Regions from separate parts of the Homo sapiens genome. Here region 2 is linked to region 1. Evidence: fine-mapped expression QTL. A gene starts in region 1. The other region holds a variant in brackets. All regions are shown on one strand. Distances are from middle to middle.

Evidence for each region. PIP is the estimated chance that this variant, and not a neighbour inherited with it, causes the effect. A credible set is the group of variants that fine-mapping cannot tell apart.
Region 2: its variant is the best candidate, but not a certain one, in a credible set for the expression of PRR32 in liver (GTEx, PIP 0.88).

The regions. Positions count from the first base shown.
Region 1 is chrX:126,811,769-126,827,445 of GRCh38, forward strand. It overlaps PRR32 (proline rich 32), which reads left to right and starts at 7,961. Exons shown (of 2, transcript NM_001122716.2): 1 at 7,961-8,095; 2 at 8,891-10,018. The coding sequence starts at 8,076. The coding sequence ends at 9,767.
Region 2 is chrX:126,776,910-126,792,586 of GRCh38, forward strand. No RefSeq gene overlaps it. Among named protein-coding and RNA genes, the nearest start is that of PRR32, 35 kb to the right of the region's middle. The variant G/C (reference allele first, on the strand shown) is at 7,916.

The DNA.
Region 1 (15,677 bases):
GAATTGACCCTATATCACTATATAATGACCTTCTTTGTCTCTATAGTTTTTCAGACAAAATATATTTTGCCTAATTTAAGTATAGCTCCTCCTGCTCTTTCTTATTTTTCATTTTCATAGAATATCTTTTTTAATTCCTTAAATATGTCATGCCACTTTCTCCTGACTTGTAAGGTTTCTACTGCAATGTCTGCTGCCAAATATATTGCAGCCCCATCATATGATATTTGTTCTTTTCTCTTGCTGCTTTTAGAATCCTTTCTTTATCTTTAACCTTTTGGCATTTGATTTTTAAATTCCTTCAGGTAGTCTTCTTTGGGCTAAATCTGCTTGGTGTTCTATATCCTTTTTGTATTTGATTATTTATCTCTTTCTCTAGGTTTGCAAAGTTCTGTTATTATTCCTTTGAATAAACTTTCCATCCCTCTCTCTCTCTAACTCTTTATGGCCAGTAACTTAAATATGCGGTTTTAAGTTACTAGGTTTTAAATTTACTAGATCTTGCAGTCATGATTCTTTTTCTTTTTCTCTTCTAACTTTGTATTTTCAAATAGCCTGTCTTGAATCTCACTAATTCTTCTTCCTGCTTTGAAGAGGGACCCTAGTTTGTATGGCTAGCCTTGGAGAAGACTAGGACTGAGAGACAGGAGAACAGGGGAAGATCAGAGAAAATCTTTTTCTTCTGAAGCTACTTCTGAGGACTTAATTTGGGGTTATTGTTTTCTGAGCCCAACACCATATTAGAAATTAAATCTGGGAAAATTTTAAAACACAGGAATATATAAGCACGTATTCCATTAATCATTAGAGCAATGACACCACATATCATGTAGCCTGAGAAAAACTCCCACTGCACCCTCAGGAGAGAATTAGACTGAATAAGTGAAATAATATAATCATATAATAATGAAAATATTTTGACTCTGTGGGCCCTTTGAAAGGGTATGGGGAGGGTGGCATTTTTCCCTAAACCAAATTTTAGAACTACTACTCTTAATGAACTAAATGTTACCTATCTTTTAAAAAACTAAACATGATGTTTGGAGGTCTGTGGAACAAAATGGAACTGGAGTGTGGCATGCAGTCAAAAAGATTTTATGTTCTATTGTCCCTCTATCTAGTCAGTGGTTTAGAGCTAATGAAAAAATAGTGCCCACTAGAATTCCGGGCCTAACCCCTCAAGCCTAGACTACAAGGCTACATCACCTTGTCAGTATTTCTCTAATGTGGTCAGAAGATCACCTCATTAGAATCAGTAAATAAACTAAAGATAACTGGGCCCCAGTACAGATCAATTGAATCAGAATCTAAGGGATGGAGCCAAGGAATCTGCTATTTTAATAAGATACCCAGGTCAGTCTGTTGCTCAATAATACCTAGAAACCACAGAAATAACCAAGTGTTCAGTTCACCCTGAAGTGGTGCAATGCTCCATACCTTTATTTGCTCTCATTTGACCATGTGCCAAAAGACCCAGTACCTCTATAAAGGTTCATCAGTTTGGCTCAGATCTTATTATAGGGCTGTTGAAACTTCACTACCTGAATGATATTCCTTTAGAAATTTCCTGTAGAAATTTTCTAAGAGTCCCTCTCTTATTGCCTTGCCCTCATCAATCTGATCTTTTATTCTGTTGAACTCCCACACTAAGTAAACACACATATCAATTCATCACTCTAAGAACTAGAGATAGAAGATCTTAAATAGTTCAAAAATAAAGGCAAACTATCCAGGACCTTTAAACAAACACTTATGTCAGCAGCATGGGCATACGGCATAATTCAGGCAAGAATTAAGAATGGTCTCTCTGGATAGGCTTTATTATTATTTTAATTTTGAGTTTCATCAGCAAATTTTCCTGCACATTGAATTATAGTCAGTCTATAAAAGTGTTACACTTCCTCCAACAAGCTATTTATTTGACCACTTGAGAGGGATGTAGGGAAGGCTTCTGGGTGGGAAAATTTTTTTTCCCTCTAAAGTAACAAATCATTTGGAGAATCAATCAATCAAATCTTCACTATCAGGAAACCATGCAACATTCTTTTTTCCCCAGGCCTTCCTCTTTAATCATCACACGCTTTCAGTGATTCCTGTTGTGAAACACAAGTTTCTAAAGCCCAATTAAATATGTGGTCAAATACAAAAATGCCCTCTTTATTCGAACACAGCTACTACATTAAATATAACAATGGGTGATTTTATGTAGTGCCAATTGAAAAGTTTAAAGCATTATACACCATGGGGTTTTTTTAATAGTGTGGTTAATCCTCACCACCTTAATGATTTAGGAAAAGAAAAAAGGCCTTATATGTAAGAGGGATAGGTGGCCACCTACACAATGCTAATTAAATTGTGCCAAGAAGTCTTCTTGCTCTAGAAATATCACCTATGGTTATATGAACCTAACGTGTGAAGTGACTTACAGTTTGCAGAACAATTTCAAATAACTATATTTAATTTTCTCAACAGTTCTGAAATAGGAAAGGCATTATCATCTCTATTTTACATAAAAACACTGAGTCTAATATGTACAAGGAAATTATTATATTTAAGCCACCTAGTATGTGACAGTCATTATTCATACACTACTTAACATAACTCTCTCTCTAACCCCATTTTACAGGTAAGGAGAATGAGGTTTAGAGAAGTTAAGAAACCTATCCAAGATAACACAGTTGATAAGTGGTAAAGCTGAGATTAAACCCAGATTTGTGCCCTTATGATTCCAGAGTCAAAGCTCATAACAATTTTGAAAAACAGATTCATTTTTAATAAACTGATAAAAGGTTTCCAACATGAATTTCCAGTGTCTTGTTTATAAGCAAGATGAAATTAATCTAAAATATATTTTGTTTTTCAAACCAAGTACTCAAGAAATTAAGCATGCCCTCAACTCCTGGGCCCAGCAATTAAATCTGACATGGCAAATACATGTATTACACCATTATAAACTTATGGCCTGATGCTTTCTGTAAACTTTAACCTGTTTTCATTAACTGTTCTAATTTTATTAGTCCATGTTTGCATCTTAATTTATATTATATGCCCTATATGAACATAAACATATTGCTTTTATGTTTTAATTTATATATTTATCTAATTCAGAAGGGTATTCTCTAGGGTTATCATTAATACCTCACTTGGATGACTCAAGCTCGGCCCCCATTTCACCACACACACACACACACACACACACACACACACACACACACACTACCATGGAAATAATATGAGGAACCCTATATCTTCTATATGTGCAGCTCAAGAGCTCAACATTAATTAAATCTTAATATTGATAATGCTGGGCTCATATTGCCATTAGCTCCTCAGTAATGGTCACTTGATGCTGTCCTATAACCAATTCCTATTATCTGTCACCCACCCCAATTGCTCCAAGACAGTGTTTTCAGTCATCACCACCTTGCTACATTATTAACTAACACTTCAATCACTTGCTGCATCCCTGCAGAGGCAGACTTTCTGGGATGTGAGCATTATAGCCTGGATGATTTCTTCATTGCAGAACTACCTCTGGATGAGGGTCAATGGGTCCATGCATTACAAAAAACCTAAACTCAGATTTGGTACACACGTTTTTATCTGATCCACTTTTGTGATTGACCTAGAACTATAATTTAGAGGCCACGTGATTAAATGAATGAAATATTGGCTTTGGTGTCAAATTGGCTGTATCTGAATATTGTTTGCCATTTACTAGCTTTGGGACCATGGGAAACTTCTACTTATTTTCTCTGACTCTCTTTTTCCTCATTTATAAAATGAGTATAATAATAATAGCTGCCTTAAAAGTTTGCTGTGACCATTAAATGAGACAATGTATATCAAATGTCTGGTGTACAGTAAGTGGTAAAAAAAAATAGATTTTCTTTTACTTCTTCCTTTTTTTATTCTCATCTCACTTGCCCTGGTGCTACTTAATTTCTGGTTCCGACCCCCATGAGAGCAAGAAAAATGAGTGATATATGTTGAGGAAACTTCTGATAGCTTCTGATTTGTACAAAGAGATAACCTGTTTGGAAGTAATTGCCATGTTACCCATCTTAAAACAAATATGTAAATATTTAAATCTGAAACAAAAAACTCTATAAAAGCAATAATAGTCTATTGAATTTCATACAGCTAGATCCAGCAGTGAGGCACATGTTGTTAGTTGCTTTTGCCAATACTGGTGGTGATATAGCCACACTCTCACCTGTTTGTTCTCATCAATTACCACACAGAGTTTGCAGGACAGCTGGTGGCAGAGAAGACAGGACTACTGCCTATAGCTGTGTAATAGAATAATGCTGCCTGGCCCATTTTGGGAAAGTATCATGCTTTCACGATTCTCATGCTTTAATACATGGAATAAATGACTACAGACTCCTCAAAAACCTGGTATATCTTCCAGAAGCACTTTTTGGACATCATAAACTTAGAGAGTTTTTCACATGCATAGCCAAATTACATTTGGAAAGTGAGCAAATGGGTAGGATTTTCTGATGACTGTCTCCCCAGAGGTCAACATGACAATTTCCTTATAAGCTAGATGGAAACAGAGAAAAATCATCTTTATGTCTTTATATCCTGAATTCTTATTTGAAGCAAAAGAGAAAGGGTGTATTTTAAATGATACTTTGCCTTCATTTACACATCTGCAAAATTTCTTTAAAAAAAACCCCACAGCAACACAATTTTGGTAGATCAACCACACTTTTTTAAAAGTTTCAGATGGGGTTTCATTATATTTCCCAGGCTGGTCTCCAACCACTGGGCTCAATCCATCCTCCTGCCTCAGCCTCCTGAGTAGCTGGGATTACATGTGCATGCCACCATTCCCAGAAATCATATTTATATTAAAGTCATAATTGCTGTGCAAAAGTAAATATATCTTTCTACAGACCTTACTTAGCATTTCAATACTGTCATCAAAATTTTTTGAGAGGTAAATAAATGATATCTGGAACTGTGTCATGAATAAAGAGGCTATGGGTAATGAAAGGCATTTATACCTTAGCTACTTCTTAGGCCCCCTTCAAAACTCATGTTGAAATTTAATTGCCATTGTGACAGATTAAGAGGTGAGACCATTAAGATTAATTAGACCATGAGGTCTCCACTCTCATGAATAGACTAATGTTGATAAGGCAGTAGTGAGTTTGGTATTGCTAGAGTGGGTTGGTATGAAAGTGAGTTTGGCCCTCTCTTCCTTGCTGTCTCTCACTCCCTTGTGCTTCCACCTTTTGTCATGGGATGCCACAGCAAGAAGGCTCTTGCCAGAAGTCAGTTCCTTGATATTGGACTTTCCATCCTCCAAAACTGTGATAAATACATTTCTTTTGTTTATAGATTACCCAGTCTCAAGTATTATGTTATAGCAGCAGAAAATGGACTCAAACAGCTGCCTTGCTAACTAGGCTACTTTTTGGTGAAACTTCAACCTTCATTACCCATGTTTCTCTCCCCAAAACTGTTATTTAAGTGAAGTAAAGAAAAAGGCATATACTTTATTACTGAATTTTCAATGCTCAGTGGATGATTGAGTTACCCTGATAGCTTTTTGCGAAAAGGTAGGTTTTGAGATAGCTGTATTTAACTTTGAAATTTGAATGTATTCAAATATTTATTTATGGGTAAAATTTATGGGTAAAACTTCATGAATTATCTGGTTGATCGCTATCTCTAAGGGGTCTAATTGGTACTTTATATTTCTATTTCTGCCAAATATGAGCCCTAGTTTTGATTTAAAATATGAACTACAAAATGCCATTTTTTTCTTTATTTCTACTTCTATAACTGTTCTTCCCATAGCATGACATCTCCTTTTCTGCCCATGTATATCAATTTTTCAAAACACAGCAGAAGTTTTAATCCCACATAAACTGTGTCACAACTACTTTAACCCACAATTATAGTTCCTTCTTCTGAATTTCCATTGCAGTCTTAGCTTATACCATGCAGCTAATGGTCTGTGGCTATTTTTTATGCCATTCTTCAATAATTTTATAGATGTTATTTTGCCTCCCAAGAAAATTAGAACATTCCCTGAAGTCAATATGGATTGCATATTTAACTTTTTTGGTAAAATCAACACTTAACACAATAGTGAATGCACGCAGTAGACATTCAATAAATATGGACTATTTGCACAAAGGAAAACAAGTTACAAACAAAATATGAGGTAATATCCATAAATTATACACTTCATGGCTTTGGAAAATTCTTGGTGCCATGGTCATTGTCATTGTTCCCAGCAATTTGGTTCCTATATTACACCATACTGTTATGTAATCCAACTAAGATGATATCTTACCAAACAGGTATTTCTAGGTAAAATTGTTTATTATTATAGTAATTTGATAAGAACAAAAGGCATTCCTCAGGCTTTGTTGCTATTATCAGGAAAAAAATATGCAACCTATTATACTGAAACTATTTATCTAAATGTGATTCACCAACTATTAGCAGGCATTAACCCAAGTTGCAATTTCCTCTCTGATACGACAAGAAGTAAAAGAGCTTTAACACCCCACAACAATAATACTGCTAATAATACTATTATTTTTACATAAGGACAAGGTGCGTAATAAACTGAAGCAAGAATAGAAACAGAATCTGGGGAATCAAGAGATTACTTAATAGTGAACCATGCTAGGCAAGTGAACAGATTCTTCTGGAAAATATGTTGGAAACATGCCACTTTCTTGTATAGATGGAGACAACACACTCTGGCAGGAAGATGTGGACTTGCAGACCCCAAAGGTTACTTCTATATGAGTTGTGTTGATTTGCAGTAGTGACCATTCCTTTACATTAGTACTTTGTACTTATGCATTATTCTGTCTCTCTCACACACACACAGATACACAGACACCATATATCTAAAAATTGAAGCACATGGTATTTGAGTCTGTTATCTTTCCTTAAGAGAAAAGAAATATACATTACTGTTGAACTGTAGCAACATATACTAATATTGAAAATAAGGAAGACACAATCTCCCAGGTCTAGCCTGCACAGCACAAATTTTATGTAAATTTAGGCAGGTTTGCCAAGTTTATGGCTTTGTCCTAGAGCAACAGTAATTGTCTTGGATGATGGAATGGTTGTTGTAATTTCGGAGCAATTAATCTGTAGATCAATGGCAGAAAAGAAAGCTGGGAAAGTAAACTTGCTTAAAATGAAATTTAGGCTGGACAAACAGAAAGTTCCCTATGCAAAAATGTTGCATGGCCAAACCTAAGCTAATATTTATAAATTTATGATACCTGTTATGCCATTTATTCTGACCCTCCCAACTTGAGAGAAACTTCCAGAGCTCTATTACAGGAAATACACACACGTACACACACACACACACACACGCGCGTGCACACAGACATAGACAGAGACAGAGAGAGAGAGAGAGAGCTTATAAACTAACAGACAAGATGAAGGATATAACTGCAACGTGAGGGGCTAAAAAATAATGTCACAATGATTCTTAGAGGAGTTCTTGTTTCATCTTCACAGATAGAAAAGCAATTTAGCCCCCAAACCTCTGTTCTCCACCAAGTTAATAATATGCATCCCCAAACTGGAAGTTTAAGTTACAATATTAGGCACAATACTCTGCTCAATGTGTTTCCAAATTTGAGGAGACTTGACAACTACCTTGTAGAAACTAAAACTTCATAAATAACTCTTTAAAAAATATCATGCTTCCATGATTCTTCTAAATCCTTCTTGAAATGATTTGTCTTTCCAACTGCCCTGCATCAGAATTAATGTAGTGAATGCCTTTACCATCCATCTACTACTGTGCAAACACCAGTCCCACATTTAAGTTCAAAGGAGTGTCACAGATTCATCCCCACCCACCCCCCTCCCCACTCCTTTTCTCCCTCCCTTCCTTAGCAACTGGTAACCCCAGAAAGAGAACTCCAAATCTAGAAAGAAGCAGTTGGTCCCTGGCTTCATTCTAGTTGCCAAGCCTCTAAAGCAGAAGCAGGAGTCATTTCTCCAGACCTAGCTGGCCTGTTCAGTGGGTTATCTCCACCACCTCAGGAAAGCTATTCTGATCAAATTTCTTCATGGCTTGTATTGAAAACGTGTAAGTACAAAACCGAGTACAACTGTTTAATTTTGAAGGCAAAGTCAGTTTGAATTGCTTTATTGTGTAACTGGGACAGGGATGAATGGGTTGGAGGAGATGTGGGAGGAAATTACAGACAAAAACTTGAAGGACATAAATTTAGTTACTAAGAATACCGGATTTAAGAGTGGCAACTTTGAAGTGTAATTTTGAAAGAAAATTTACAAATCCCTAGTCTAAACAGTGGGGTTTAAACATGAGGAAATTCTTACTCTAGGGTGTGGTGGTGGTTGAATGAAAGAATTTTTAACAAAATTTGGTGTGAGTGTTGAATGATACCTCAAGAAGAGAAACTTGTGTGTTTGTTAACATAACTAACTTTTCTTTGACTTCTGTGAAGAAAAAGATATTTTACTTCGGAAGACATACCAGAACAATCTTGCCAGAATCTGAATGCCAGGATTAGTGAATCATAGATCCTAGAGAGAATTGAAAAAGCTGGTATTTTCTATTATATGCTTACTATTAAGTTATGTGCATCTTCTAAGCTTCCTTGCTGCCTTGTGGAGGTGGGGAAATGAGGAATGAAATAGGCCACTGAGTAGTCATGAAGGGTAATCATGTAGCCTAGTACTAAAGAAGCCACCTGGGAAGGGGCCAGAGCGCTGAGCAAGTATTTGGCTACATATAGGGGAGAGGGCACTCCTTTTTTCCCTGGTATATTTCAGTGAGCTCAGTCAATTACATATTGTAGCTATTTTCTGGTCAGTGCATTTCCATTTTTATTAGCTGTTTGATTTCTGTTTTTGCAAGCCTTGGAGGGCACGCCCCTTCACCCTTGGTAGTATCTGTGGACAAAAATGGGAACCAGGAGCTGCACCACGACATGCCCCTGCAATGTCTGAGTTCCAAGCCAGAGGATGACGCAGAGCCCTGGGGTCAACCTCAAGTACCGCTGAGACCTTCCGTCAATGTGCTGACTGATCTGGATAGCAAGCAACTGGAGTGGCCCTCTGAAAGAACAGGATCCTGCATTCCTCTTCATAGCTTGAGAGCTCATAGACACCCCTACGGGCCACCACCTGCTGTTGCAGAAGAGTCCCTAGCAACAGCAGAAGTAAACAGCTCTGATGCACTGGCAGGCTGGAGGCAGGAGGGACAGGATGCTATTAATGTGTCCTGGGAAGTCTCTGGCGGCCCTCCTGCACTGATAGTAGGGGGCACAAAGGTCAACAATGGGGGCACTGAGAGAGGCAGTAATAACGCAAGGTTGCATGTAGCTTTGCCACAAGGTAAAGGGTTCTTTCCACCCAGGGGCCCACAAGTGAGAGGCCCTTCACATATTCCCACCCTTAGATCAGGGATAGTAATGGAGGTGCCGCCCGGAAATACACGAATAGCCTGCAGAGGAAAGCTGGCTCATGTTTCTTTCCCACTCAGGGGCCCATGCCACCCCATGCATAATTGGCCAAGGCCTATCCCGTTGTCTTCCAGTACTCCAGGTTTACCTTCTTGCTCTACTGTTCATTGTTTCATCCCTCCTCGACCTCCGATTTTCAATCCCTTTCTCACTATGCCTCTTCCTTTTGCTCCTCCTCCGATATTTGGTCCTCCACTGCCTTCTTATTTTGCCCATTTCCATTCTGGGGGAATGCCAGCTCCTGCATCACCCAACAGAGAGCACAGCTGATGGCAAAAAGGAAGGATGAAAAAAGGGTTGTGGAAAGAGGTGAAAGTTATTCATTTATGCTTTTATATTTGAAACCTTGTACCCTCCCACACTCTGTTTAGCACTAATGTGCCCTACTTGAAACCACGTACCCTCCCACACTCTGTTTAGCACTAATGTGCCCTATTTGAAACCTTGTACCCTACCACACTCTGTTTAGCACAAATGTGCCCTACATACTGGAGATTAAATAAAGATTGTGAAGTCTGAAATGCTGTAAATTATTTTTCAAAATGACACCCCAGGAACCAAAGCCTTGGATTTTGTGTTCTATCTTTAAGGTAATTAAAGCAGAAACAAACCTGTCAGTGTTTTCTAAATGGCTTAGTTAAATGACTGTTACTATTTTCTATTGAGTTGTCTTGCAGTGTGACTGGGGAAGGGTGGTTAGGTTCTTCCTAGGCCAAGGCTAGATTGGGGAATCTCTATCTACCCAAGGCTATAAGGGGTGCTTAGAGCTGGATGGCTGAATTAAGAAAAGTTCCATAAAGGCAGCCTAAAGTTCAGATAATAGAGAAAAATGAACAAACAGTAAAAGAAGCCAGATGAGATTGAGGTGAGAGTAATAGAGCTAACATTTAGCAGTCATAGGCAGAACCAAGTTGAAAAGTCAGGAAAGAAGGAGGAGGGAAGATGGAAGAGTATTCTTAGACCACTGCTTCAACACGAACTGGTGTTTGTGTTTCAACTTTTCCTTGTTGCTAATTACATAGTATATATAGCTCTGGCTCAATAAGAGTCCAAAATCAAGGTGGAACAGGACTGATCCTTTCACCCTTTGTCTCAACAAAGAGCTTACTATATGTATTAGATCCATTCCCACACTGCTAATAAAGACATACTCAAGACTGGGCAATTTATAAAGGAAAGAGGTCTAATTGACTTACAATTCCACATGGCTGGGGAGGCCTCAGGAAAATTACAATTAGGGCAGAAAGGGAAGCAAACACGTACTTCTTTACATGGCAACCAGAGAGAAAAGTGCAGAGTGAAGGTCGGGGAGGCACTTATAAAACTGACAGATCCTGTGAGAACTCACTCATTATCACGAGAACAGCATAAAGATAACTGCCCCCATGATTCAATTACCTCCCCGTGGATCTCTCCCAAGACAGACACAGGGGGATTATGGGAACTGCTGTTCAAGATGAGATTTGGGTGAGAACACAGCCAAACCATATCACTATATGCTCAGAACATTGAAGTGCAAATGAAAATACTTTACTCACATGGAAATGTTTTTCTCAGATACTGCTGTGTTTGTATTCCTCATAATTTGCTACAGCACCCCATTATAATGATGGTTCTGAGAGATTATCAAAATGTTCAGATGGGAGCTTTTAAAATTTCAAGTAACAAAAATAAGGATGCAGCATGCAGTGTGAAAGGATGTACATTTTGACAGCTGTATAACAATTCACTATATAGTAAAATGACCTAAAATATAGTGCCATTGTACATGAACAACCAATCAACTAGAAACGTCTAAAGAGGATGTTTCTTCAAATAAGAATTTTTAATATTCAGTGCTGATAGTGTAGGTGATATAACCAGTTAGACAGAGGCTGAAAAAGCCTGCCAGAGACAAAAAACAATAAAGAATTTTTAGCACCAAGAAAGAGTCATTTGCTACTCTGGTGAGGACACATAGATTGATTAAGTTTCTTTTATTTGTTTCATAACAAGTCATTCTAAATGTACAGGTGGTATTCTAAGGTTTAGCAGGAATATCTGGATAGTGACTGATAGAATTCCTCTCACCCCATGTATGTCCTGAAACTGGCATGATTCCATCAATTCACTCTGGTGGATTGAACACAAGTATTCAGCACATCTTTGTACAGCTGCTCGTGATAAGGTAGCTTAGTCCTAGTGTACTAAATATCTGTTGAATTTTAATCCTTATGAACAGAGAAATTGGGCATGCTTATAGTCATCAAAAATATCTTTTGAGCCAGATGTTGAAAGATATTTTGAGAAGAAATCAAGCCATCATGTCAATGGTAGTGCTACGTCTCTAGAGAGTTGCCAAAAGGTGTGGTAAGTGACGGCAGGACAGGATTCGTTTTCCTTCTCACAGGAAGTAAGTAGGTCAGATCTATGCTCAGAAAAACTTAACTTACAATTAATTAAAGAAATCCATGACAAATTGACTAGAACAAGCAAGTGACATCAATACAATTGGCTCCTTTTCAGCTCTCTTTTCTCTTTCCTCACCCTGTGTGTGTGTTTTTTTTCTATGTCATGTCTAGACACTGAACACCAATAGTAAGCAATAATGAATACCTATTAGCAAATTGAGACACTAAAGTTGTATTTATACCTCTGAGGTGCAGGGTAAATATGTTTTCTTTAGTTTATGAAGAGTTCTGGGCCTATATAACCAATTTCAATGAATGCAAGTATCAAATAAGCCTGGAATCCTGCTGTTAAATGCAAATATTTTTGTTTATACATGGCTTCTGCATGGAAATACGGTATTACTTTGTTATCACACATGACAGTGTCCTGAATGACAGCAAAACATCTGTTTTTAAACAAACAAGTCACATTAAAGTTGTTATTTTAAAATTATTATGGTAGAATGTGATCCATATTAATCCTAAACCATAACATGATATTCATTTTGGAAAGCGCTCATAAAGCAATGTATTCAACACTCTTGAATATATATTATTTATTTTTATTCTCTGTGGCTTAAATAGATTCTAGCCACAAAAGGGAAAGATGAACATCAGCATAGCAGTCCTTTCTTCTGGTAATAATGACAATGGGTTAAGTATTTCCTATTTGAAGCTATAATCATTGTCACAAGAAGATTCATTTTATACTGTTTATTATTTATAGTTCTCATTATATTCCTTGTCACAAGACTGTAGCATCAGAATTTTAATGTCCTATATATTCTCTAGAAGATAATAATAAACTCTGTAACACTGACCTTTTACATGTCTACAGTATGATTCATTAGCCATTTCTATTTTTTACTGTTTACAACTTCTGTAGCATGAGTGCAAAAGGTACACATACAGCCAATGAAAGTGCAGAATACTGAAAAGGTTGAAGTTCAAAGTTATGAAATATTTAAAGTTTATAGTCTTTCATAAACTAGAATGCCATTAACATTATGCCTCATTCTTCTGAGAATTATTACAACAAAAACACTAAACAGGAACAAATGATTTATTTTCACTGGAGTCTTAAGGTTGAAATCACAGTGCTATCTTTCTCCACCATGAAACAAGAGGCTCATTGTGAGGTCGTCACTAAATAACTGGGTAGCACATATATAACGGGAGAGAAGAAAATCATTCCATAACTATTACATAGTACTATAACAATGGCTTTGCATTATTCATTGTTACTGAGAGATAATTTTTAAAGTCCCTAAATAAAGGGCTATGTAAAATGACCCTATTTCAAGACAAATGGGCCAAAGCCAGAGCCAAAATACATTTTATAGAGGTAAAAAACATAATGGCAGGTCATAGGCTAATTTCATAGCTACCACAAAACCTTGAATGTCTTCTTTATAATGAGGTGGATTGAGTGATATTCCCATAGAAAGATAAAGTGATAAGACTGAATTAAGTAAAATAACTCATCTATTTCTCTTTGGTGATATTACTTGTTTTTTATAATAATAATGTATAGCATTTATCAAATCAAGTCACGATTTGAGAAGTTAGAGAAATTGTGCTTCATCATGCAATCTTTTTCTTAAGTGCTTGAGAAGGTGCTACTCTTGCTAAACAATGATTAAATAAATGCACTTTCTCACCCACCTTTGAGGACTTTACTGTCATTCTGAAAAACTTTCCAGTGTTTGCATTTCTCAAAAAATAAAAAAACTCTCAGTTAAGCTTATTTTTATGAAAGTGACTTGCCTATTTCTTTTTGGGAATGAAAGGGTATGCTGTATTATTTTATATAGGTAAGCTATATTTTTCCTCAATTCTGAAAGTTCCTCATGTAAAATAAAACAATATAAATAAAGCCCATAAATTCATCAATCCTGCAACAAAGGACTTTATCCATCTAATCATGTTTGATCATAAAATTTGCTGGGAAGATTATAACTGATTTATCAAACATCACGATTATAAAAGCTGTGACTCAGAGGCAAAGCAACACAGGGAGTATGGGGGAATTGATGGATGGTGTTTGCACATGTGACAAAGAGAAGAACAGATGGAGAAAGACTGAGGATTAAAAATAGAGAGGGGTAGGGACACAGTCAGTTGAGAAGAGATGAAATTCTTTAGAACAGGAAGCAGCTGCAAATTGGAAATACTATGGGAATAATAATAAATTTGGATGTGGGAGGACATAATCCAGAGAAAACAGGGTGAGGTGGTCTGAAAAAAATAGTGTTATGAATTAAGGGTTTCATGACAGAAAAATCTATGTGCAGAAGCCACACATTTGAGGGGGTGGGGATGAGGTGATTAGAGAAATACTATCTAGTCTGCCTAAAAGTGAATCCATCTCCACTGCTCCATTCCTTCCTATAAATATCTCTCCTTAGACAGCAGCCAATCTCACATTCCCTATGCCAAACTGGAAACACTTTCTGGTTTAGGTTTCATTAATCCACCAAACTGGCCTAGACAAACAAACACATCATCATCAAGGTGAACTTCATTAGTGATGTGGGTATGCAATGAATTGGATTCAAACAAGAACATTTTTTCCTTAAAGTTCTCAAATATACCAGATCTTCATTTTTTAAATTTAAACTTTAATAATTTTTCCCTAGTGAGGTACACTGATGATTTTCTAATTTTGTCTTTTATTCCTCCCCGCAAAATTATAATTTCTTAGGTGGAATTACTGACATTATTTAAGCACACTACATCCAGAAACCAAGTAGTCTATTATGTTCACCAGGGGAATATTTATACCTACTTTAGGTAAAAAAATTGTGTGCATTGTGTTAATCCTCATTGATACTTGACAGCTAATTAGCAATGCATTCTATAATAAATAGGTGAAGGACAGTGTTTAATGCCACAAATAAAAGGTTGATTATCTATAAATAGAGCAATTTAAAAAACATATTAGTAATTAGTCACATCTGGAGAAAAATAGTCAAACATAATGTTTCATAGTTTAAAACTACCTATGAGATAGTCCATAAAGATCATCAGTAAAACCATGGATAATTCCACGTCTAGAAAACATGAGTTAAAAAATAATCTCCTCAGAGTTTATATGAGCTGTTACAGCTTCAGTACTAGATATTTTCACAAATCAATTGCAATCTATATTCATCCCAAAGTGTCCAAGTTTATAATTAGTTAATATTGCTAACCTTACGAGTAGAATGAAACCATGAACATGTCATTTCAAAACAGTGTAAAAGCTCATTTCTCCTTTATTCATTGTATATGAAGTGAAGTTATATAAGGAAAGTGGTAATTACAATGCCTAAATGTTGTTCTCTGTACTTTACTTGATGTTATTCTTTTAACATGGCCAGCAATGGAGGCTGCAAAGGAAAATCAACCCTTGACTGAAAGCTGGTAAAAAGTCATTCAGTTTTGGGTCTTAGGCTTTTCTAGCCAAAACAAACAAGCAAACATAACAAAGTATAAAGCAAGGAATCCATGGGCTTTAAAATTATTAATCTGCCTTTATTAAATGTAAAATATATTCAATAAATACTCTCCCTAGGGCGCAATAGAAAATTAAAATGAAATAGACAACTACGGGTGTAACTGATTACTAACAGAAAATTAATTTTTTACCAGTAACAGAAGGTATGCTCTTTATGGTTCAGTGGGTTCTCATATGCTCATGAGTCTTTATTTAGAATTTCTACCTCTTCTGTTGGTCTGATGGCTCCTCAATTTACAAATAGAAAAACTG
Region 2 (15,677 bases), 35 kb before region 1:
CAAGCAGTATACACTGCACCAAATTTGTAGTCTTTAATCCCTCACACCTCTCCGATCCTGTTCCCCAAGTCCGCAAACTCCATTGTATCATTCTTATGCCTTTGCATCCTCATACCTTAGCTTCCACATTTGAGTAAGAATATACCATACTTGGTTTTCCATTCTTGAGTTACTTCACTTAGAATAATGGTATCCAATTCCATCTAGGTTGCTGCAAATGTCATTATTTTGTTCCTCATTGTGGCTGAATAGTATTTAATGGTATATATACACATACACCTATGTGTATATATATCAAATATATTATATATAATATAGAATACATATATTTTACATTATATATTATATTACAATATATAATATATGTATTCTATATTATATATTATATATTCTAATATATTATATATATTCTATATGTATATAGAATATATATTATGTATTATAATACATATTATATTATAATACATAATATATTATATAATTATATTTATATATATATAAATATATAATATATTATATATTATAATTATATATTATATATTATAATATAATTATGTAATATATATTACATATAATATATTATATATATTATATATTAAATTATGTTATATATAATATATATTATATAATATATATAATATATATAATATATTATATATATTATATAATATTATAGATATTATAAATATTATATATATTATATAATTATGTAATATATTATATATATTATATAATTATATAATATATTATATAATTAATTATAATTACATAATTATAATATATTATATAATATAATTATAATATATTATATATTAGAATTTTATATTATATATGTACATACAATATGTATTATATTATAATACATACTATATTACATATATATAATATAATATATATTGTATTACATATATTATATATGTAATATATTACTACATATTATATGTAATATAATATGTAGTAATATATTCCTATATATTATATATGTAATATAATATATAGTAATATATTACTACATATTATATGTGTCTATATAATATATAGTAATATATTACATATATTATATATGTCTATATAATATATTACATATATATGTCTATATAATATATTACATATATATGTCTATATATTACATATATATGTCTATATAATATATTACATATATATGTCTATATAATATATTACATATATATGTCTATATAATATATTACATATATTATATATGTCTATATAATATATTACATATATTAGATATGTCTATATAATATATTACATATATTATATATGTCTACAAATATATTACATATATTATATATGTCTACAAATATATTACATATATTATATATGTCTACACAATATATTACACATATTATATATGTCTACATAATATATTACACATATTATATATGTCTACATAATATATTACACATATTATATATGTCTACATAATATATTACATATATTATATATGTCTATATAATATATTACATATATTATATATGTCTATATAATATATTACATATATTATATATGTCTATATAATATTTGTAATATTATACTATATAATATGTTATATATTATATAGGTATATATTATATATTATATATATTATATATATTACATACATTATATGTAATACATGTATATATATTATATATATAACATATGTATATATTATATATATTATATATATTATATATCTTATATATGTATATATTATCTATATTATATATAATTATATAGAATATATTATATATGTATATATAATATATTTATATACTATATAGAATATGTTGTATATGTATATATATTATATATAATATATGAATATATTATATATGTATATATACTATATATAATATATGAATATATTATATATGTATATATACATATATAATATATGAATATATTATATATGTATATATACCATATATAATATATGAATATATTATATATTATATATACTATATATAATATATTCATATATTATATATGTATATATTATATATATATGATATATTATATATGTCTACAGAATATATGATATATTATATATGTCTACAGAATATATGATATATATGTTTACAGAATATATGATATATATGTCTACAGAATATATGATATATATTATATATGTATATAGAATACAGTAAATATTATATATGTATATAGAATATATTAAATATTATATATGTATATAGAATATATTAAATATTATATATGTATATAGAATATATTAAATATTATATATGTATATAGAATATATTAAATATTATATATGTATATAGAATATATTATATATTATATATGTATATAGAATATATTAAATATTATATATGTATATAGAATATATTATATATTATATATGTATATAGAATATATTATATATTATATATGTATATATACCATTAAAAACTATTCATATGTATGTATATATACCATTAAATACTATTATATATTATACATATAATATAAATACATATATACATATATGTATATATTATATTTTATAAATACCTGTATACATATATGTATAGATTATATGTATAGATTATATTTTATATACACTTATATTATATATCATATAATATATACTTATATATAATATATACTTATATTATATATAATATAATATATACATATATTATATATAATTAAATATATACATATATATTTAAATACTATTCAGCCACAATAAGGAACAAAATAATGACATTTGCAGCAACCTAGACGGAATTGGATACCATTATTCTAAGTGAAGTAACTCGAGAAAGGAAAACCAAGTATGGTATGTTCTTACTCAAATGTGGGAGCTAAGCTATGAGAATGCAAAGGCATAAGAATGATACCATGGAGTTTGCGGACTTGGGGAAAACTATCGGACGGGTGTGAGGGATTAAAGACTACAAATTAGGTGCAGCGTATACTGCTTGGGTTATGGGTGCACCAAAATCTCACAAATCACCACTAAAGAACTTGCTCTTGTAACCAAACACCACCTTTTCTCCAAAAACATATGGAAATTAAAAAAAATCACATTGAAGAACACCTTTCATGTAATAGGGTTTCCATAAATGTTAACTGTTATTAGTATAATATTGTTAGTAACATAATTATTATTTGCCATTAATCCCTAAATCAGCATGATATATAACAAAAAATCGAGATTTTTATTTTACCCATTACATCTAAGTGCAGATTTCTATTTTTTACTTTAGAACTCCATATGTTAAGTCCATAATATGTAGTTAAGAAAGTGAACACAACATTAAATTAATGAGTCCATGTAACGATTTGTTTTTCTCTTGCAATCAATAATCTTTAAAGGGAGAAATGGGGATAGAGAAAGTCTCTACTCCTGCTCAAGTTGGTAAGATAAACATTTTAGGAAGAAAAGGGAGAAAAGAAGAAGTGAAAGGAGGAGGAAGAAAACACTTTCACAACCTAGCAGCAAAGAGACATGACATTCAAAAAGTTTTATCTGTCTAGAGTTTGTGAGGGCAGAAACATTTTCTCCCATTTATTTATTTATTTATTCATTTGTTTATTTATTTTTACACAGAACCAATGTGCTGTAAGTGTTGGATTGGTGTCTTCTCTTTTGAATATCTCCAGCATCTAGATAATGCTATTCACTTAATAAACATATGTCGAGTGCCTATTCTCTGCCAGACACCGTATGAAATAGAATCTCAAAAAAGGTTATGCAATTAATAGGTGTTTGAATGCAGTCTTTTTTTCTTTTTTTTCTTTTTTATTTGACACAGAGTCTCACTCTGTCACACAGGCTGGAGTGGAGTGCAGTGGCATGATTTCAGCTCACTGCAACCTCCACCCCCCAGTTTCAAGCAATTCTCCTGCCTCATCCTCCCAAGTAGCTGGGGTTACAGGAGCCTGCCACCCCACCCAGCTAAACTTTTTTTTTGCATTTTTGTAGGGACGGGGTTTTGCCATGTTGGCCAGTCTTGTCTTGAACTCCTGATCGCAATTGATCCACCCACCTCGGCCTCCCATAGTGTTGGGATTACAGGTGTGAGCCACAGCACCGGGCCTGAATGGAGTCTTAATAAGAAGAAACTGATACTGAAGAACAAGAAAAATAAAAACTGTGTTTTCACATGCCCTAGTTTGCCTAAATTATATTCTTATTTATTGCATATTCTTATTTATGCCCTACTTTGCCTTAATTATATTCTTATTTATTGCCCTCCTTATGTGCGCTTATTATACAAATATATATTCTTTCCAGTTAGATTGCAAGGTGTTTGAGGGTAGAGATAATGCCTACCATAAATGTTATGGAACTGTTTAGTAACTGTTTTCTATTGATTTAAAAGGTCTAGGAATTTGCTGAAATTAAGAGGTTAGTATATGGTTGCACATTTACCCCAAAGCATAAAGGTCGAACAGAGTGCTCTTTTCTGAGATGTCTGTGTCTTATTTCCTCAAGTGACTATGATGCACCTTCTGGAAACTACTTTTCAACTAACTGGTATTATCAACAACTGCCTCTCAATCTACAGTGTCTAGCCATGAGTGAATCCATGTTTTCCGTCTGTCTCCTACTTGTTTCTTAAACCCTGGTAAGATGAAAAGCACTATAAACAGCTTACCCTCCCTTTTTTTCTCATTACATGTGTTGCATAGAGATCTGTTTTGTTCTGTGTTTAAGGAGAGTGTCTGCAAAATCATCAAGGTTTTATGTCCTCCATTATAGATTATAGACCTGTGATTAGAATATTTCAATTTCCTATGAAAGGAAATATCAAGATACCATGATTTTTGTTACACACCTTACTTAGCCGGCATTAACAACGTTAGTATTGAAACGTGGGCACAATGTTTTTCCTCCTATGAGCCATAAAATTTTAGAGCTGGAGAAAAACAGAACTCAGAAGGTCTGTGCAGGAAAGTCATTGTTAATAATTACAATGTTTCTTATTTAGAAAAAAGAATCTTCTCTTTGAGGGGAGAAAAGTGGTTTTCACCTACTTTTAATTTAACGACTTTCTGTCACAGCTATTAAATTTTAAATGAAAAATTTTGTCCTTCAGTTTTCGCACTGGATAAAGGGATTTGACACTCAGCATATCTGTAACTCAACCAAATTTTAGTGATAAATATTTGATACTTCACATAACATACTTGATGAGTTCATGAATGTTCAAACTGTGCCATTTTTTCATTTATGTCTATAGTTTATTACCCATTGAAAACTCTGAACACCTTTCCCCTTCTTTCTTTGCTGTCCTGTCCTTTCCCTCACTCTGGCAGCCTTTTAGTGAAGGTGCACATCTGCTGCCATAAACACACAAATTAGCACATCAATGTTTCCGATGAAAAAAAAATTCAGTGCAATAAGAGAATTTTTGAAAGCAAGCCAGTTTGTCAGTAAATTATAAGCTTCATTACCATAAAACTCTAACAAATAGAACCCATATCTCATTAACTGAAAGCACAATATGACTGCAGCAATATTCATCTCCCCAAAGAGTGCTTATTCATAGGAAAAAAAGATAAAAGTTTTGCTTAGAGCTGCCACTAATGATAGCATTAACTTTATTTATTAAAGAATGTCTAAGCATTTTGCAAAATATACATTTTACTCCTCCCTCATCTTTTTTATCTGATTAATTGCAGTGGCAGGTTATATACTATAAGTGTTATACAATGCTTAACGTCATTCCTCTTTACCATCAGTCTAATGATTCTCTAGTATCACTAAACTAACGGTGGAGACAATTTTTCCAGGCCACACTTCTACTTTCTGTTGCTGGTAAAATTCTCCCACATTATATTTAAGGCCAAAATTTTATATACCATTTATTTTTCTGATGAGTTTATTTCTGTAAAGAGAAAAGGTAAGGAATCCACTTCATCACTTTTTGAAAGGTGGAAACCTGTTTTCAAACTTAGATTGTTCAATAACTTTTGCAAGAACAGAGGTAGCCCAAAACCAACTTCTATATAAGTTGTCTTGTCATAATTTGGGAAAAACAATTATTCAGTAACTATGTTATAGTTTGTGCGTGATATGGTTTGGTTGTGTCCCCACACAAACCTCATCTTGAGTTGTAGTTCCCATAATCCCCACGTGTCGTGGGAGGGACCCAATGGGGAGGTAATTGAATCCTGCCCCCATGCTGTTGTTCTCATGATAGTGAGTGAGTTCTCATGAGATCCAATTGTTTTATAAGGGGCTTTTCTCCCTTTTTCTTGGCATTTCTCCTTCCTGCCATCATGTGAGAAAGGATGTGTTTACTTCCCCTTTTGCCATGATTGTAAGTTTCCTGAAGCCTCCCCAGACATGGCCAACAGTGAGTCAATTAGACCTCTTTCCTTTATAAATTACTCAATCTCAGGCAGTCCTTTATAGCAGCATGACAATGGACTAACACAGTAAATTGGTACCAGGTAGTGAGGCGCTGCAGTAAAGATTCCAAAAAATGCGAAAGTGACTTTGGAACTGGGTAACAGGCAGAGGTTGGAACAGTTTGGAGGACTCAGAAGAAGACAGGGAGATGTGGGAAAGTTTGGAACTTCCTAAAGACTTATTGAATAGTTTGACCAAAATGCTGACGGTGATATGGACAATTAAGTCCAGGCTGAGGTGGTCTCAGATGGAGATGAGGAACTTGTTGGGAACTGGAATAAAGATGACTCTTATAGGAAATACACTGGTGGCAATTTGCCACTGCCCTAGAGATTTGTGAAACTTTGAACTTAATAGGAATGATTTAGGGTATCTGGAGGAAGGAATTTCTAAGCAGCAAAGCATACAAAATGTGATTTGTGTGCTACTAAAAGCATTCAGTTTTATTTATTCACAAAGATATTGTCTGGAATTGGAACTCATGTTTAAAAGGCAGCCTGACAATGTGATAGAAAAGAAAAACCCATTTTCTGAGAAGAAACTCAAGCTGGCTGCAGAAATTTGCATAAGTAATGAGCAGCCAAATGTTGACCCCCAAGAAAATGAGAAAAATGTCTCTAGGGCATGTCAGAGGTCTTCATGGCAGCCCCTCCCATCACAGGGTCAGAGGCCTAGGAGGAAAAAAATGGTTTCATAAGCTGGGCCAGGGCCTTGCTGCTTTGTGCAGTCTTGGGACTTGGTGCCCTGCATTCCAGCTATGGCTAAAAGGGGCCAAGGTGCAGCTCAGGCCATGGCTTTAGAGGGTGCAAGACCCAAGTCTTGGCAGCATCCACATGGTGTTGGGCCTGTGGGTGCACAGAAGCCAAGAATTGAGGTTTGGGAACCTCTTCCTAGATTTCAGAGGATGTATGGAAATGCCTGGATATCCAGGCAAAAGTCTGCTTCAGGGTTGATGCCCTTGTGGAGAGCCTCTGCTATGGCAGTGCAGAAGGGAAATGTGGGTTCGATCCCCCACTCAGAGTCCCCACTGGGGCACTGCCTAGTGGAGCTGTGAGAAGAGAGCCACCATCCTCCAGACCCCAGAATGGTATATCCACCAACAGCTTGCACCGTGCACCCGGTGCACACACTCAATGCCAGCCCATGAAGGAAGCTGGCGGGTGAGGGGGGGGGGGCGTTGTACCCTGCAAAGCCACAGGGGCAGAGCTGCCCAAGGCCATGGGAGCCCACCTCTTGCATCAGCATGACTTGAATGTAAGACATGGAGTCAAAGGAGATCATTATGGAACTTTAAGGTTTAATGACGGCCCTATTGGATTTCGGACTTGCATGGGGCCTTTAACCTCTTTGTTTTAGCCAATTTCTCTCATTTGAAATAGGTGTATTTACTCTATGCCTGTACCCCCAACTGTATCTAGGAAATAATTAACTTGCTTTTGATTTTACAGGCTCACAGGTGGAAGGGATTTGCCCTGTCTCAGATGACACTTTGGACTAGGACTTTTGGGTTAATGCTGGAATGAGTGAAGACTTTGGGAGACTGTT[G/C]AAAAGGCATGGTTGTGTTTTGAAATGTGAGTACATGAGATTGGGGGAGGGGCAAGGTCTGAATGATATGGTTTGGCTATGTCCACACACAAATCTCATCTTGAATTGTAGTTCTCATAATCCCCACGTGTCATGGGAGGGTCCTGGTGGGGAGGTACTTGAATCATGGGGGTGGTTACCCTTATGCTGCTCTTCTCATGACAGTGAGTGAGCTCTCATGAGGTCTGATGGTTTTATAAGGGGCTTTTCCCCCTTTTTCTCGGCCAACATGTGAAGAAAGATGTGTTTGCTTCCCCTTTCACTATGATTGTAAATTTCCCAAGGCCTCATCAGCCCTGTGGAAATGTGAGTCAATTAAACCTCTTTCCTTTATACATTACCCAGTCTCAGGCAGTCCTTTATAATAATGAGACAACGAATTAGTACAGTGTGGTTTTATATGTTTAATTTTATTATAATTTTAAAAAGTAAAGCAACCTATAGTAAAGTCTTTGTAGTAGTTTAGATAGTTGAAACTGCTACGGTGTACTGGTTTCAGAAAACAACAAATTCCAAATTAATGAAGTCATTAGGCTGACAGAAGGGAAAATGACGTAACAGGGAGTAAAGAAGTTGTTAGTATAAGGTGAATATGGATGGTAGTTTAGTCAACTATTTCATTATGAACCAAGTTTGGGAAAATGATAGGGTAAGAGTTTAAATAACATGATGTATTGGACTTGCTTTAAAGTACTCTAGAAAAAAAAAATAGAAGGATGGTGGACACATAAAACAAAATTGACAAAACATGTTGATAATTGTTGAGACCAGGTGATGAATACATGGGAATGCTCTACACTATTCTCTTTACCTATGTGAATGTTACTGGTAAAGGGTCCCGATCCACATACCAAGAGAGAGTAATTGGATCTTGCGCAAGAAAGACTTTGAGGCAAGTCCATAGAGTAAAAGTGAAAGCAAGTTTATTATAGAAGTAAAGGAATAAAAAATGGCTATTTAATAGGCAGAGCAGCAGCATGGGCCACTCAGCTGCTTATACTTGTTACTTTTTGATTATATGCCAAACAAAGGGTGGACTATTCATGAGTTTTCTGGGATAGGGGTGGGCAATTCCTGGAAGTGAGGGTTCCACCCCTTTTTAGACCATATATGATAACTTCCTGATGTTGCCATGGAATTTCTTAACTGTCGTGGCACTGGTGGAAGTGTGTTTTAGGATGCTAATGCATTATAATTAGTGTATAATGAGCAGTGAGGATGACCAAAGGTCACTTTTGTCACCATCTTGGTATTCCTGGGTTTTGGATGACTTCTTTACCATGGTCTATTTAATCAGCAAGGTCTTTATGACCTATATCTTATGCCAACCTCTTATCTCATCCAGACTTAGAAAGCCTAACCTCCTGGGGATGAAGCCCAGTAGGTCTCAGCCTCATTTTACCCAGCCCCTATTCAAGATGAAGTTGCTCTTGTTCAAACACTTCTGTCATGAATGCTTGAAAATTTTCATAATTTAAAGTTTTAAGCAAAAAAAAAATACTTTAAAATACGTGGTATAAGCAGCTCTAACCTTTCTTCTCACCTGTTTTCTATTCTGCAATAAGAAACAGAAAAGGCTGAGAGACAGCATTGTGTAGGGAAAGATGGATTGTGTTTCATACCAGAGCAGAAGCTGGATTTTAAATGGGCCAGCCATTAGCTTTATGGCCTCTTAGGAATCTCTGAGATTATTTTTTCATTTGTTAAATGGGGATGGGTATTTGTACATCATAGGGCTGCTCTAAGGATTAAATAGAAGATTTGTGAAAGTGGGACTAGTATATAAGTGCTGCGTAAATGCTCCTTTACTTTACCTTGAAGTGAAGTTGTCTGATTTAGTCAAAAATTTAAAATAATTAAAAATCCATGGAAAAGCAAAACAAAATACTTGGTTTAATTTGAGTTTCAGGTAAATTATTTAATTTTTAGTACAAGTTTGTCCCCTATAATATTTGGGGCAGAAGGAGGGCAAATTTATCTGGAAATCAAATATAACTGGCTGTTCTGTATTTTATCTGGCAACCTTACTTCAAAGGGTTACTTTGGTAAGTAAAGTAGTCTAGCAAAGCCTTGCAATAAGAAGCATAATACAGTTCCAAATTAGGATTAATACTTAATTGAAAATTTGGCATTGAAAGAACAGGAAGATACTAATGAGGGAGATTTCAGCAGAGATAACAAACCCAGAAGTATGCTCAATTCCAAATCTCTAAAGAATAAATACTGCTTGCAGTTATCTATGAATAAAGGGCAGGATCAAAAGGAAGGAACATTTGGAAACCTGGGCCCCCAAAGAGGCGACAACACAAGAGGTTTCTGATGTGAATGGAAAGGAAACTTGTATTTAAATTAAATGCAGTCTCTGTCTCTGTCTGTCTCTCTGATTGTCATTCTCTCTCTTTCTGTCTTATCTCTCTCTCTCTCTCTCAATGTATATATATATATACACACACACACATATTTCTGTTCTTTCTAGTGTTTACTTGCACATTGTTTAATATTTTACTTGATTTTCTACAACCATTCTGCTGAAAATATGTCAATTAATGTTCTTAATATTCTGTTGGAATTTTAACAGTAATTTATTTTTTAAAAAATCACAGCCTAAGAACTGTAAAATGGTTGTAACTGAAATTCTTAGTAGGTGTATGCAATGTCCAAAAATGTCTTGTATTCAAGGTCCTGCATAGGAAATAAAGGAATATCAGTCTCAAGTGAAGCTAATAGACTATTTCTTCACTCTTTGTGTAGTATAGCAGTTTCTCATGGAATCATACTTAAACAATTCAACTCTACCTATAGCAAATCAAAGCTGTACATACATTAATTTTTAAAAAGCAAATGAACCTGAAGCTTTCCTAAAACAAGAAATTCACTTGAAGTTCCATACTCATTCATAAGCTGATTTATAAATAAAATACACACAATTATAAGCTGATAGACAAATTTCAAATCCCCATTTACTCACTGAGTCTCTGTTCTCAAGCTCTGTTGTTTGAAGTTTTAGTTTTCCTGTATACAGATGTAAATTTGCTATTGTTCTGCATGTTTTATACAATATTTAGATGTTTCTTCCTAGATGCTTTATGTTTCATATGTATGCTTTGTTCCTCTAAAAGTACACTCTGTGAAGGAACATATATTTTCTTCCTTTTATAGCACTTCAGAAGCATTTAGTAGAATATTGTACAAAACATTCACAAGAATGACCACAAACTGGCTTAGAAATATTGAACCATGTAATATTTTTTCTCTTAAGTTGTCAGATAATATCTAGCACAAAGAGGAAGACTCTTTAAATCCGACCAGGCATAGAGAGAGGAAAAGGAGGTGTGTAAGGTGCAAATTTAAGAAGACCCTGATTCTGAGAGCAAGCACTTTCTTCACTTTTGTATGCAAGTTGCCTCACTTGCCTCACCCTAGTCTAGGCTTTGTCTTTAAAAGTGGTGACATGTCTCCAACAGCACTTGTGTGTTTAAAATGACACTGTTTTGCAGGAAGGAAATAGACGTCCTTTTAACACTTTAAGCAGAATGCATCAAATAACTATTCTTGAATAAGCTATAGTATTCTCCAGCAGGTGTAACAGTCATTGCTTAATAACTGCTCACCTTTGCCATCTGCTTTTAGCTTCTTGATGTATGACATTTTCCTGATTACCACTTGGTTGTGCGACTCGTGCTTTAAGCCATGTTATCCTTTATGTATTCTTGCTGCTCTTCTGGGACCAAGAGTAAGCTGGAAGAGAGTCTTTGCATTCTTCAGACATTGTATTTGGATATATTTTGAGCATTTTATCTTTTCTCAGATTTTCTCTTCATAGTCATTATCTTTCCCTCCCTCCCTCCCGCCCTCCCTCTCTCTCTCTCTCTTTCTCTTTCTTTCTTCCTTTCTTCCTTTCTTTCTTTCCTTCCTTCCTTCCTTCCTTCCTTCCTTCCTTCCTTCCTTCCTTCCTTTCTTTCTTCCTTTCTTTCTTTCTTTTTTGACGAAGTCTTGCCCTGTCACCAGGGCTGTAGTGCAGTGGTGCAATCTCAGCTCATTGCAACTTCTTCTTCCCGGGTTCAAGCAATTCTCCTGCCTCAGCCTCCTGAGTAGCTGGGATTGTAGGTGTGCACCACTACACTCGACTAATTTTTTTTTTTTTTGGTATTTTTACTAGAGACGGGGTCTCACCATGTTGGCCAGGCTGGTCTCAAACTCCTGGCATCAAGTGATCCCCCCGCCTTGGACTCCCAAATTGCTGGGATTACAGGCTTGAGCCACTGCTCCCAGCCACTCATTATGTTACATATCCAAAACTAAAACATTTAATAATATTTATTCACAAATGCTAAAGTGAAGATAATAATGCAATAATAATTAGCATGTTATTAAACCCTCAATATTAATTCACAAAATATTAATGCACAAAATTCATTTTTCTAAGCACAGATGGAAAGAAGGTTATAACATGCTTCTTTCTTAATGCTCTCTTTATGCAATAGAGAATTGCTCAGGAAAATAATAAAACTAATTGTTGCAAAGTGTGACTGAAACTGTGATCTTACTATTATCACGATAAAAAATGCAAGCTGTCATGATGGCATTATGTCATATTTTTATATAACAAAATAATATTGGAGTTATATTATTTATATGTGATGATTTTAAAAATAGTGCAAGGCAGCCAAAGAAGAGTGTACACTTCTTTTGTAGGAATAGTGTAGAGGTAAAGCAACATATTCATCATATTATATCATATGTGAGGGCATATACTATCAATATGACTGTTTCCTATTGATTTTTACCTTGATCTCTGGGCTGAAGTGAAGATTTCTCCACTGTAAAGTACACTTTCCCCTCCTTTCTACACTTTAGTCTTCAGAAGGAAGTTACTATGCTCAACTCACACACAAAAAATGAGAAGTTTTGCTACCCACCTCAGGGTAGAATAGCTGTGTAAATTATGTGGAATTTGTGTGCAAGGAAGATTTGTCTTTAGTCCTATCTTATTTGTTTATATAACCTTTTATTTATATCATTATAAACTCATTGATATTTAATTTACACTTTGGATTATAATTCAATACTATTTTTATTAATTTGTACAAATTGTTCCAACTTTGGCATTGGCAACTGTTTTTCTTGAGTATTGTGTCCCTTTGGCATGACTATATTATAATGTGCTTTCCTTTTTTTGTTTTTTTCTTCTTTCTGGCACTTTTTTTTTTCTGGCAGGTGCTACAGTCTCATCTTGTGTTTTCCTGTCTGTCTTGACTCAGCAAGAGAATAACTCCAAGGAACCCTGGTTGCTTCACTGGAGAATGATACTAGAAAGCAAGAGCTGGACACTACGTTTGCTCATTGCTGTGGGGTGTTGTTTCTTCTTCCCCAGCTTGGCTGACAAAGGAAGGATAGATGTGTGCATAATAACCCTTGCAGATATCTAAATATTTCTATATGTAACAATCAGTATTTCTATTAAGCTAAAAATAAGTTCATAGTGTTGCCCATCTAACTCATTATTCTAGTCTCCTCCCCTTGCTTAACTGTAAACTCCCCCTCCAACAGTGACAAACCTGACTCTCATCATATGTCATCTATTTACTGAATTGTCCAATTCTGATATACATGTGTGAAAATATTACAATTGTTAACCCATATGACCATGGTAAAGAACTTTATCAACTAAAGCATAATGCTTCTGTGCAGTTCCTTTTGTCTTTAGTCTTACAAACTCCATTCACTGCCAAAGTTACTTAGGTCTGCTACTTATTCCCCCACCTTCTTCAGTGAGATTGTTTCATACATTTTTTAATATAGTTAGATGGTCTTGTTACATTCTGCAGTCCATCCTGTGATTCCCCTGACCTCATAAATGATGTCTTCAAATTTGCATTATTTGAGACGAATTTCTTGTGCTATAACATTCACTGGATTTTGAAAAAAAAGAATAGTGTCATGTATCCACAATTACAGTATCATGTCTATTAGATTTTGGGTGCTAAACAATTCCCTGTGCTTTATTCCACTCTCTTCATCGCCTTGCAATCCTCTGGTAACTACTTATTTGTTTACTGTCTCTATAGTTTTGCCTTTTATACAATATCATATATTTATAGCCTTCTCAGACTAGTTTCTTTAATTTACAAATATGCATTTAGGGTTCATCCATGTCTTTTTATGGCATAATAGCTAATTTCTCTTTTTTTGCTGTATAATATTTCAATGTATGTATATACCATAGTTTGTCCATTCACCTATTGCATGACATTTTGGCTGCTTCTAGTTTGGATGGTTATGAATAAAGCTGCTATAAACATGCACTTGCAAATTTTTATGTGGACATCAATTTTCAAGTCATTTGTGTAAATAACTAGGAACGTAATTGCTGGATCATATGCTAGGACTATGTTCAGCTTTATAAGAAACTTCAAACTGTCTTCCAGAGTGACTATACCATTTTGTATTCCCACCAGTCATGAATGAAAATTTCTGTTGTTTCACATCCTTGCCAGCTTTTGGAGTTTTTGTTGTTGTTTAGGTGTTTAGCCATTTTAATAGAAGTGTAGTGGTATTATATTGTTGTTAGATTTTGAAGTTATCTAATGAGAAGTTATACTCAGCATCTTCTATATTTATTTGCCATCTGTATATCTTCTCTGGTGAGGGGTCTGTTGAGATCTCGTGTCTATTTACTAACTGGACTGTTTATTTTCTTATGTTTGAGTTGTAAGGATTTTTGTGTGGAGTTAAAAATATGCCATTCTGGAACATTGACTATTATTTAAGTTAAAGGCACTTGAAAAACAGCAGGTGTAAAAAAGATTACTTTCTCCTTTGTGTTGTTTCCTAAAAACAGAAGATGAAATTCTTATGTGAAAGACATCCCCTCCATACCAAAAGTAATAATATCATTATCTTTGAGGACAAGGAATTTAGACCAAAATAATTTTACGCAGGCCTCTTTAAAATAACTCTTATCTTTTAACCATACTTACATAATTTAGTTTCTTCTTCACAACTTTCTATTCTTTTTCCAAATCAGGATATAAGTAACTAACTCTAACTGCTTCTTTAGGTCAATTTGGAAGATCTACAGATGTCCTTATGAGGGCTCCTCTGCCACCTACAGTTTGTGTTAAATAAACTTGTATGTTTTTTCTTCTGTTACTCTATGTTACGTCAACTTAATTCTCAGACTCAACCTGGAACCTAAGAGGATGGCAGTGGAGTTTTACTGCCCCTACAGTTTCTGCCAATGAAGATGGGATTCTTAAAGGCTGTGATGCCCTACTCCCTCTGAACCCTGCAAATGGGATCCTACAAGACCCGACGAAAGCCAGCAGAAAGTAGAAATTCTTGTGGAAGTCCACTCTCCTGCAGGTCTGTATGCAGTGTCTCATTGAGAAAAGAAGGTAAATAATTTTTCTTGACATTTGCTTCCAAATTTAGATTGGCAGGAGTAAAACATTTATCAGATTTAGTTATTTGAATTATGACTCTTATGAATTTGGTTACTGATCCACAGTGTCCCATAAATATTCCTGTCTTCCTTATCTCTATTTTTCATGTGGTTTGGCATAAGGAAGAAAATTATAATAAGATTCCTCTTTCATTTTATTTTATGTCTTAGGAGCTGTGTTTTGTGACCAGTGAGGAGATTGTTTCTGGTGTCCATCGGCAAGGGACTTCAAGTTGTAAGATTTGCATCAGCTGACTAGCCGGCTGGATAGAAATCCAA